Regions from separate parts of the Homo sapiens genome. Here region 2 is linked to region 1. Evidence: fine-mapped expression QTL. A gene starts in region 1. The other region holds a variant in brackets. All regions are shown on one strand. Distances are between the middles of the regions.

What was found. PIP is the estimated chance that this variant, and not a neighbour inherited with it, causes the effect.
Region 2: its variant is the best candidate, but not a certain one, in a credible set for the expression of KLHDC10 in prefrontal cortex (BrainSeq, PIP 0.57).

Annotation. Positions count from the first base shown.
Region 1 is chr7:130,067,889-130,073,196 of GRCh38, forward strand. It overlaps KLHDC10 (kelch domain containing 10), which reads left to right and starts at 2,646. Exons shown (of 10, transcript NM_014997.4): 1 at 2,646-2,921. The coding sequence starts at 2,756. RefSeq lists enhancers at 2,161-2,360, 2,391-2,580 and a silencer at 2,681-2,850.
Region 2 is chr7:130,133,546-130,138,928 of GRCh38, forward strand. KLHDC10 (kelch domain containing 10) reads left to right here. Exons shown (of 10, transcript NM_014997.4): 10 at 1-2,160. Among named protein-coding and RNA genes, the nearest start is that of LINC03008, 5.5 kb to the right of the region's middle. The variant C/A (reference allele first, on the strand shown) is at 2,565.

The sequences.
Region 1 (5,308 bases):
TTTTTTTTGAGACGAGTCTCGCTCTGTTGCCCAGGCCGGAGTGCCGCGGCGCTATCTTGGCTCACTGCAACCTCCGCCTTCCAGGTTCAAGCGATTCCCCTGCCTCAGCCTCCAGAGTAGCTGGGATTGCAGGCGCGGGCCGCCACGCCAGACTAATTTTTTTTTTTTAAATATTTTTAGTAGAGACGGGGTTTCACCGTGTTAGCCAGGATGGTCTCCCTCTCCTGACCTCGTGATCCGCCCCCCTCGGCCTCCCAAAGTGCTGGGATTACAGGCGTAAGCCCCCGCACCCGGCCATTGTATGTATGTATGTATGTATGTATGTATGTATGTATGTATGTATGTATGTATTTTTGAGACGGAGTCTTGCTTTGTCGCCCAGGCTGGAGTGAAAATGGCACGATCTCGGCTTACTGCAACCTCTGCCTCCCGGGTTCAAGCAATTCTCGTGCCTCAGCCTCCCGAGTAGCTGGGATTACAGGCACCCACCACCACGCCTGGCTAATTTTTTTGAATTTTTCGTAGAGACCGGGTTTCACCATGTTGGCCAGGCGGTCTTGAACCCCTGACCTCAGGTGATCCACCCACCTCGGCCTCCCAAAGGGTTGGGATTACAGAAAGTGTTAGGATTACAGACATGAGCCATCGCGCCCAACCAAAACTTTATATGTTATTTTCTTATTTCATCTCTCCCAGTTGATTAATTAAAAAGTGTTACTTAAGAATCTACTTTGGCTGGGCGTGGTGCTCATGCCTATAACCCAATGCTTTAGAAGGCCAAGGCAGGAGGATGGCTTGAGGCCAGGAGTTCTAGACTAGCCGGAGCAACAAGGCAAAACCACCCCCTCATCCCCACACACTGCCCTATCTCTACAAATTTGCTTTGCAAATTGGGAAAACAGCATTTCATAGGATTTCTGTGAGGATTAGACAGGTTAAACATGTAAAATGTGTAAGACTGCATTTTGCCTATATACATAAAAAACTGGCCAGACGCAGCAGCTCACACCTGTAATCCCATCACTTTGGGAGGCCAAGGCAGGTGGATTACCTGAGATGGGGAGTTGGAGACCAGCCTGACCAACATGGTGAAAACCCATCTCTACTAAAAATATAATTAGCAGAGCGTGGTGGCACATGCCTGTAATCCCAGCTACTTGGGAGGCTGAGGCAGGAGAATTGTTTGAACCTGGGAGGCAGAGGTTGCAGTGAACCGAGATCATGCCTCTGCACTCCAGTCTCGGCGACAGAGTAAGACTCCGTCTCAAAAAAAAAAAAAAACAGTTAACATATATTAATTTTGGTTTTTATATTTTAGAACCATAGGCTTTTTTTTTTTTCAAGTCTCAAACATTTTCATAAGCAGCGTGCTATGGTGCTAGTGACTAAAACATTTCTGCCTACAGGGACTGGAAGTAGGAAAACAAGGAGGCAGTGCCAGTGGCGACCAGAAATTTGCACACCAGGTACAAAGGGTATTTGTCCTCAGCTCCAGCAGAGTTTCTTTTTTTTCTCTGCAACCATGTAAGGTTCTTCTAATGCAAAAGAAAAAAAAATCTGTCACATCTAAGGACCTTGAAAAGTTTTGTTTCCCTTGAGGAATTTGATATGCTTTTTCCTTATCATTCAGAAACATCAGTGTATAGTATGTTTTCCCAGTCTGCATTGCGCCCAGTAAGTTTCAAGCCAAAATTTCTGTTTAATTTTGGAACAATAGAAACTCCTGATCGGCACATTAAAAATTTTCTTTGATCTTGATCTTCCATACCCGTTGCTGCCTTTTATTTAATTTTACATTTCCTCTTGATTATATATCTTCCAAGCTGATTAAAATTTTCTACTAGCCAAAAGGAGTTTGAGCGAACAAAAATATTTACAGAGCCATCAGCCATCTATGAGAATACCTTTTTCTTGGCATTCCACACACTGCCAGGTGTTATTTGAAAAGTCTTTACTGATGTAATAAACCAGAAATGGTTTCTCATTGGGGTTTTATTTTGTATTTCTAAGATTACAGGTGAGAGTGAACATTTTCCCATATTTGTTAACCAGGTTTAAAACTGTTTGATTGGGACGTGGCTTATACAGGGACAAATGCAGCTAAGCCGACTGAAAGACAAATGAAACCCAGGAATATCTGGTTCTTACATTTTAGCTTTGACTCCGCCCCTGGGTCCCCTCACCTACCCGGACCCCAAGCAAGCCCTTTGTGTGTGTCAACCATCAGTGAATGGGATCTCAATCTGAAAAGCTGGCAGAATACCGTCTTGCCCCCAAATATGTGTATTATGCGTATATCCAGTGTCTGATTGCAATGTTTATGGGAAAAAGTTCCTGAATCCTAACCAAGACTGAGGCACTGGCCGTCCCCGGGAGTCTTTCCGCAGGCGCGGCCTCTGACACTCGGTCTTCGATTGGCCCGCCTGGCCCCGCAGGAGTCGGGGTGACGCCGGCCAGCCCAGAGCGGACGATGAGAGCTAGGAGTGGCTGCTTCTGCCTTTCTCTCCCCCTACTTTTTTTTTTTTAGCCATAGCTATGGTTACCACGTTTCTCTCCGCCTCCCGCCACCTACCAAGAAAACGACTGACCATTGGCTGCCTTTCACCAAGGCGGTAAGTCATTGGTCTCTGGTGGGACCGGGCGCTGCCCCCTTCCCCTGTCTCCTGGGTCTCTGGAGGAGCCCAGGAAGGAGGCTCCGCTGGTTCCGCTGGGTCAGGCGCTGACGGGACCGGGCTGCGGCAATCGTTAGCGGGTCATGTCGGCCGCCCAGGGCTGGGACAGGAACCGCCGGAGGGGAGGAGGCGCCGCCGGCGCTGGTGGCGGAGGTAGCGGGGCCGGCGGGGGCAGTGGGGGCAGCGGGGGTCGGGGGACTGGCCAGCTCAACCGCTTCGTGCAACTCTCCGGGCGGCCGCACCTGCCAGGTGAGTCGTGGGACAGGGTCCTGACCGCTTGCGGGCGGGAAGGTGACTGCTACCTTTTCTTTTTCTCCCTGGCTTGCTTTTCCTTGGGAGGAGGAAAGGCAGGCCCCACGCATAGCAGAGGGACTGGGGATCAGAGAAAAGGGAAGGTGTCTTTGAGGTCAGGGAGGGAACAGGAGCACAGCGAAGAAAAGTATCTGTGCTCTGTTGAAAGCTCTGTGCTGAGAGTTGTGTTTTCTTTTCAAAGGAGAGGCCACTGTCTCATTGACATTTCCAAATGTTTCGGTTACTCGATTCCCAATCTCTTCCCCTTCCGCAGTTTGATCTTGTAAATGAAAGACATTGGCGCCTAGCTGTGGGAAATTATTTCAAAAAGGGTGCCAAGTTAAGGAGAGAAGAAGGAAACGCATTCCAAGGAGTGATTTTGTAAAAACTACACGGGGCGTGTGTGTAAGAGGCATTCTGAAACGGAAGAAAGGGGTGGGGGAGTGTTGGCTGGGGAGTGTATGGGAAAGAGAACCTAGAGGATTAGGGAAAACTAGTTGGATTATTAATATTTTGGAATGTTCAGAGACAGGATAATGGTGTCTAGGTTTTAAGGGGAGAAAGTGAAGATCAAAAATATACTTAGTGACACAATTATGCTGTGTTTACAATATAAAAACAACTGAGAATTGGAAAAATGTACCCAATACAATTATTTGACATTTTGGTCTACAGTGCCCTAGCCTTGAGTTCAGATGCTTTTGAAAACAAAATAAAATCAAGTGGATATGTATGTGTAGACAATTTTAAAGAGGTATGTTTGTAATTGAATATTCAATCTAGTAGAAGGAAGGTAGGGAATTAAATAATGCAGAGAACGTCAAATATCCCACTGGGCAAGCTTATTTTTACTATGAAAAGAACTATCAGGAATGATGTGTTAATTATTCATCGTGTTTTTTGTGAATAATATTGATTATATTAGTGATATATTTGTTTAGCTGATGAGTTTTGAGAACATGATGAATTGGTTTTTATGAATTGTGCTTAAGACTGTACCTTATACTTCTAGTCAAAAATTATTATTTGATTAAATTGAAGATGACAAAGGGAATTTAGCACATTTAATGAGACAATTGCTTATGTTCGTGATGAGGTTGTTGATGTGTGCTAGAAATGTACATTACCCCATTTATATGCATTAAATCGAGGCATTTGTAAGTAGTCATATAATATACCAGAAGTTGGGTTTGAGACGTTAATATCAGACTGGGCATCCTAGAATTGCTAAATATACGATCTTTAACATGAAAAAGAAAAAAGGAGCAATCTTTTTTCTTACTCCCAATTAATAATAAAAACTTAGATTTTTGTGTATTGGCAGCTTAGAAGATGAATCTCTTAGCAAACACTGTCACCAGTTTGCCCTCTACTACCGCAATCTTTAGGTCTTTGATCACGGATTAATTATACCATGGGCTTCAAGTAGGCATTCCTAGGTTCCTAGAACCTGCTTGGTGCACTTCCTCACTTCAACCACGTGATGGCAGTGGAAGCCATGATTTCTGCTAAGGGGCTTCAGTGTAGAGCTATTTCTGCATTCCCTTAGCACACAAGACCAAGAACAGCCATTTATCCGGAGGTAAAGATAAACGTGTCTAAACTGTGAAAATTTGTAAAGCGGGGTCATCAGTCTCTTTTTTCTGCTTCCCTTTTCTCTTGACTGACACTTCATTGCTCCTTTACTCATTCTCAAAATTGGGACACATCTGATACCTCAATGTATTATGTAGTTTGAAATTCTTTCATACCAATTCTTTATTCTGCTAGGTATTGCATTTTAAGCCTCTCCCTTTTCTTGCATTTTGATAGATTTTAAAAGATTTTAGGTGATGGGGAGGAATAGGATGTCTAGGCTTGGTTGACGGGCCTTGGAGATAAAACCTTTTATTTTAAATTTATTTATTTATTTATTTATTTATTGAGATGGAGTCTCACTCTGTCCTCCAGGCTGGAGTGCAGTGTCGCGATCTCGGCTCACTGCAACTCCACTTCCTAGGCTCAAGCAATTCTCCTGCCTCAGCCTCCTGAGTAGCTGAAATTACAGGCGCCCACCACCACGCCAGGCTAGTTTTTGTATTTTTAGTAGAGACGGGATTTTATCATGTTGGCCAGGCTGGTCTTGAACTCCTGACCTCAGGTGATTTGCCTGTCTCAGCCTCCCAAAGTGCTGGGATTACAGGCGTGAGCCACCTCGCCCAGCCAAATTTTTTATTTTTTTGAGTGTACTATAGCGGCTGGTCGTGGTGGCTCACATCTGTAACCCCAGCACTTTGAAAGTCCAAGGTGGGAGGATCACTTGAGCCTAGGAGTTCAAGGCCAGCCTGGGCAACAAAGCAAGACCA
Region 2 (5,383 bases), 66 kb after region 1:
ATAAAGCTGGATTTTCAAGTCCATGTTTTCTTACTCCAACTCTTAGAGACTCATTGTTCCTTAGGTTTGTTAGAGTTGAGATTTTTTTTCTCCCTGTCATCTTTGTACTCTCTCATGTTTGCATGTCTTACATTTTGTTGCCGGAGAACAAGGAAGTCCATCTGTAAGGAGTTTCCTAAACGGAGAATTAAAACCTAGTATTTAACACTAACCATTCTCCTATGTATATACTAATTTATCTGGGAATGTAATACTTTATTAAATGAAGAAAATGATGCTTTCTTCATTTAATATTTTCCACATCCTGGAAAAACTATAAACTGACACAGAATAGGTTGAAATCTTAACTGGGGCTAAACAAAACCCTTTCCATTGGCAGAATCTCCTTTTTTCAGGGCCATAATGACATGATGTAAAAATTTGCTTTAAACCATTCATGCCCTTAAATAGCTAGATTTTAAAGCATAATAAGCATATTAACATTTTTAAGCAAAAGATACGTTAACAGTGACCTTTGGTTATCCACAGTAGCAAGAGTAAAGCACAGATCATTGAAATCCATAGATAATCAGTGAATCAACTTTCCTACCAAACAATAGATTCATTTACATTTCTTTTTCCTCCCTATCCTTTCCTGTAAGCACCTGTTTTTCCATGGAATGGGGTTAATGAGTAGGTAGAAAAGGAAAAGGAATAATCAGTAGGAGCTGACAACCAGTGACCATATAAGCAGCTGATTGCCTGTAATTAGTCAGGCTGAACAATTAGAGTTGAATGCTGAAATTAGGAACCACAGGTGGTAATCCTGAGTAGATGTAGCTCTTCAGCGTCATCTCCTGCCCTGAGCTCCAGGCCATCTCTCTAACCACCAAAGAACTCTTAGTACCTACGGGAAGGAAAAGCTGTGTGCGACACAGAGGAAACTCCATTATTTGAACACATTTCTTTGGCTCTTGACAAATACTTGCTTTTCCTCTAATCTTGCAAGAGCTATGGCTCTTCTATTTTCCAATCACACAGCTTGGCATGTAGGAAAGGTTGAATGATCCTCTAAGACTGTGTTGGTCTTCGTATTCTGTAAAACCCATTTTTTTTTTGTGGTCTTACAGATGTTTAGAAAGTGGCACAGGTTACTGAATTGTCTACCTGCCAGCATTCTGATATAGCACAAAAAGCTATTTTCCTTTATTTTTTGTATTATTTTTTATTTTTCTGGCATTGAGCTCTAGGGTGGATGAGGGTTTATGGTCCTCTGATCATAAGCTCCATTCTAAAAACTGGTCACTGTTAGCTGAAATTGCTTTGGTTCCCCAAATGCCTTGGAACTCCAGACGCACCCGCAGGGCCTGAGGTAGGCTTCATAGAGTTCTAGGACTTCCGTGTGCGTTGCCACCAGATCCTGCCCAGCAATGGCCTTTCCCTTCTAAGGTCATTAGATTCAGCCAAAAGCGACCTCTTCTCTAGTCCGGTGTTACGAACAGAAGTTCTGAGTTGTGCTACAAAAGTAGTTCCATCTTTTTGGTGTAATTTTCATGTTTTTAATTTGAAAAAAAAAAAAAAAAAAAAACAACTTTTTATAAGTTTTTTAAGGGCCCTGCTTAGTCAGTGTACAGGGTGGAGTCAGAGGCAGTTTTCAGAAAAAAACAAAAAACAATTTCACCAAGCGGTAGTAATTGTTGTTTTACTAGTTATACATTTAGAATATAAAGGAGGCATCAGAAAACACACTCTCTAAAGCCACTTCCTTGTGCACAGAGTCTGCACAGGGAGAGCACAGGCATCTCCCTGGAAAAGCACCTGCCAATGACGAATTTCATGGAAGAACCTAGGCAAGAAAGGAAGCCTCTTTCTGAGACACAGTCTCTGAGAGGTGAGCCTAGCTTTGCTCTTCCTACAGGGTATGCTTGGGCCATACACAATGCTCGCCTTACTTTAAAGCTATTTTGCCACAGTCCTGTTAAATAGTGTGGACGTCCTTTTGCAGTCTGGTGTGCATGCCATATGATCAGGACAGCTTTTCCACTTTACTCGGTTTCCTACAAGCAAGTAGGAAATACAGTGAATTTACCCTAAAATGTCCAATCTGTATTTATGTACCTTGTCAGTGTTTTGCTGTTGGTTTTCTAAAACAATCTGATCAATAAATCTTATCCAAATCAATTTGGTTCAAGTTCACCTTGATTGTCTAATGGTAATTTGTGTGTACGTGAGCGCACCTATATGACAGAAGCGTCAGTCCTACCCACCTCCACCAGGCTCAGCTTTTCTCTGTAATATCTGTGAGTCATCTGCCTTCCACCCCCACTCCACTGTGGGTTCTTTATCTGCTCATTATCTGGAACTCCTGGACACACAAGAGTTCCCTCACCAGCACACTGCTCCCTCCACAAAGACATCAGCAAGGGAGCAACTGTCGGGCAGCCCACACTCCCTCTCACTGCCCCACCCCATGTTCCCCAAACCACTGCTAGACAAGTTTGTATAGGTATATCAAGACTTTTCTGAAGGGTTGGAAGAGCTACAGAGAATTCAAAGGGAAAATGTGAACCCGTATATATAGTCAT[C/A]TGACTGTCTTTATGATCTGAGGGAAGAGCCCCAGGAGCTGCTGAGCCCTGTGCAGGGGTCCTCTGGGGGTGAAACTACACTTCCTAGCTCTGCCCTTGGTCTTCCAGATGCTTCCCTCACCAAAACAAACCTCTGTTTTATGATGCTGTGATCTCTAATCCTCTAATCCTTCTCCATGCAGTGCTTTTCTCCATGTCTGTGTAGTCCAGAGTAGGTAGGGAAGGATACTCCCAAGTCTGGTCACTTTTAAGGTCTCCCTTCTAGAACTGAACAGATGCCTTGTATTTTTCAGTGTTTCCATTGGTTAACTATTGGATCAAACACACCTTCCATGGACAAATAATCTTAGATATTACAATATACATCTACAAGGAAGAAGAGAAACAATTTCTACCCATTCATCCACCTTACAGTTAATACTTTATTATGCAGAGCAGTCTTCTTTCCTTGGGTTTATTTCTCCTAACTATACTCCTCTCCAAGCTACCAGATATAAGAAATGCACCCTATACCTTTCAGTCTTCAGACCAGCCAGAGCTTTGAAATGGACTCTTATGTGCATCTGATTTGGTTCTTAGATAAGGCATCTAAGACCCATCTTGGCCTAGTGGGAGGAGTTTCAGTGGCCTAGTTGGTTTGCGTGGTTTTGTTCTTCCAGTTTATGTGTATATAATTCTAGTTTGTTAAAATGATGTTGTTAAGCTACTTTAACAACAACCACATTCTCTTGTAGTTAATCTTCTGCAGTAATTGCTTGAGGGAAGAAAACATTGGTAAAACCATCCAGTTTCCCTACTGCCTTCAAATGAAAGGCCAGGTTCTAGCCCAGTGCTAGAGCAATAAAGCTTTCTGCAATGGTGGAAATGTTCTGTATCTGCACCACCCAATATGGTGGTAGCCACAAGCCACATGGGGCTTTTGAGTACTTCAAATGTGGCTAGTATGGCTGAGAAACTGAATTTTTAATTTGATTTAATTTTCATGTATTTATAGGGAAATAACCACACATGGCTAGTGGCTACCTCTTAGTGCAATTCTAGGAAGAGATGACCTGGGGGTTAGGAGACAAGGGCTCTGCTCTTGGCTCAGTCCATAATAGCCCTGTTCTGTATGCAACTTGCTTTTCTTTGGGTCTTGGTTTACTTATCTGTCAAATAGGAGGAGGTTGGCTAGATAATCCCCAAGATCTAACATTATTTAGGATGTTTGGCCAAAAAAGGCTGCAGCATAATGGTGAGTACCATAGGTGTGCAGTGCTAGGACTGGAGTTACCTCTTAAACTCGATCCTGATCTTAAGATCACTGATCCCACCGTGGTGGGAGGTCTGCTGCCCGCTCCAGGTGGTTCCTTAGTGAGTGGCACAGTCAGGATTTCCACTTGCATAGTGCAGGCTCCAAGAAAAAGTATTGAAAATGGAGTAGGGACTAGAACACGGCCACTGCCAAGCCACCTGTAACCCACTGGTTTCAAAACCATGATCCATACTTGTTAACAATACAGATTCCTGGGCCCAAACCCCAAGGATTATATTTTAATAAGTGTGTAATTTTAATAAACTCTTTCATTGATTCCAATTCAGCTGGTTTAAGACATTTGGGAACCCCTGACCCACAGCTGAGCTAACTGGCCAGTGCCGGCCAAGATGAGAGATTTTGTTACCTTACTTTTTATTGTCATATTTCATTGTCCAGCAGGAGACTTCACTGCAAAGGCCAGAATGAACATTTCCCAATCCTTGCCCATTAGAACTCAGTGGCAGACCGAGTACACAGGTATTCTCCGCTCCTTCTTGGAGAACCACTAAAATAATAACAAAATGGCCCTAGTTTCCTTTTCTCTGAAATGGGGCTAACAGTAGTAACCTCTCTCCATACTAGCTACTTATTTCATACTGTGTGGCTGAAATAAGTAGATATGGGTAAGGTACTTCAAATGACGCCTGGCATATAGTAAGCATTATGGAGATATTCACTGTGATTGCTCTCTAGTTGATGGAATAAGAAATAAAACTGAAGGCTGGGCATGGTGGCTCACGCCTGTAATCCCAGCACTTTGGGAGGCTGAGGTAGGCCGACCACCTGAGGTCAGGAGTTCGAGACCAGCCTGACCAACATGGAGAAATCCCGTCTCTACTGAAAATACAAAATTAGCCGGGCGTGGTGGCGCACGCCTGTAATCCCAGCTACTTGGGAGGCTGAGGCAGAAGAATAGTTTGAACCCAGGAGGCAGAGGTTGCAGTGAGTCAAGATCACACCATTGCACTCCAGCCTGGGCAACAAGAGCGAAACTCCAACTAAAAAAAAAAAAAATTTACTAAAAATTACAAAGTTAACCAATAAAGAAGAAACTAAATGTAGGACGAGGGAGGGAGGGTGGTGATGCAAGTGAGCTGAGTCCTGCTCTCCATAGCAGGAAGGGGATAAACAGAATGTCTCAGATTGAAGCAACAGCCAGGTACACGTGTAAATTAGAGAGTAATGGTGGATATCAGGCCAGACATGGTGGCTCACGCCTGTGATCCCAGCACTTTGAGAGGCTGAGATGGGCAGATCACCTGAGGTCAGGAGTTTGAGACCAGCTTGGCCAACATGGCGAAACCCCATCTCTACTAAAAATACAAAAGTTAGCCGGGCATGGTGGTGGGTGGCTGTAATCCCAGCTACTGGGGAGGTTGAGGCAGGAGAATTGCTTGAACCTGGGAGGCGAAGGTTGCAGTGAGCTGAGATAGTGCCATTGCACTCCAGCCTGGGTGACAGAGCAAGACTCCATCTCAAAAAAAAAAAAAAAAAAAAGGTGAGTATCCAAAAAAAAAAACAG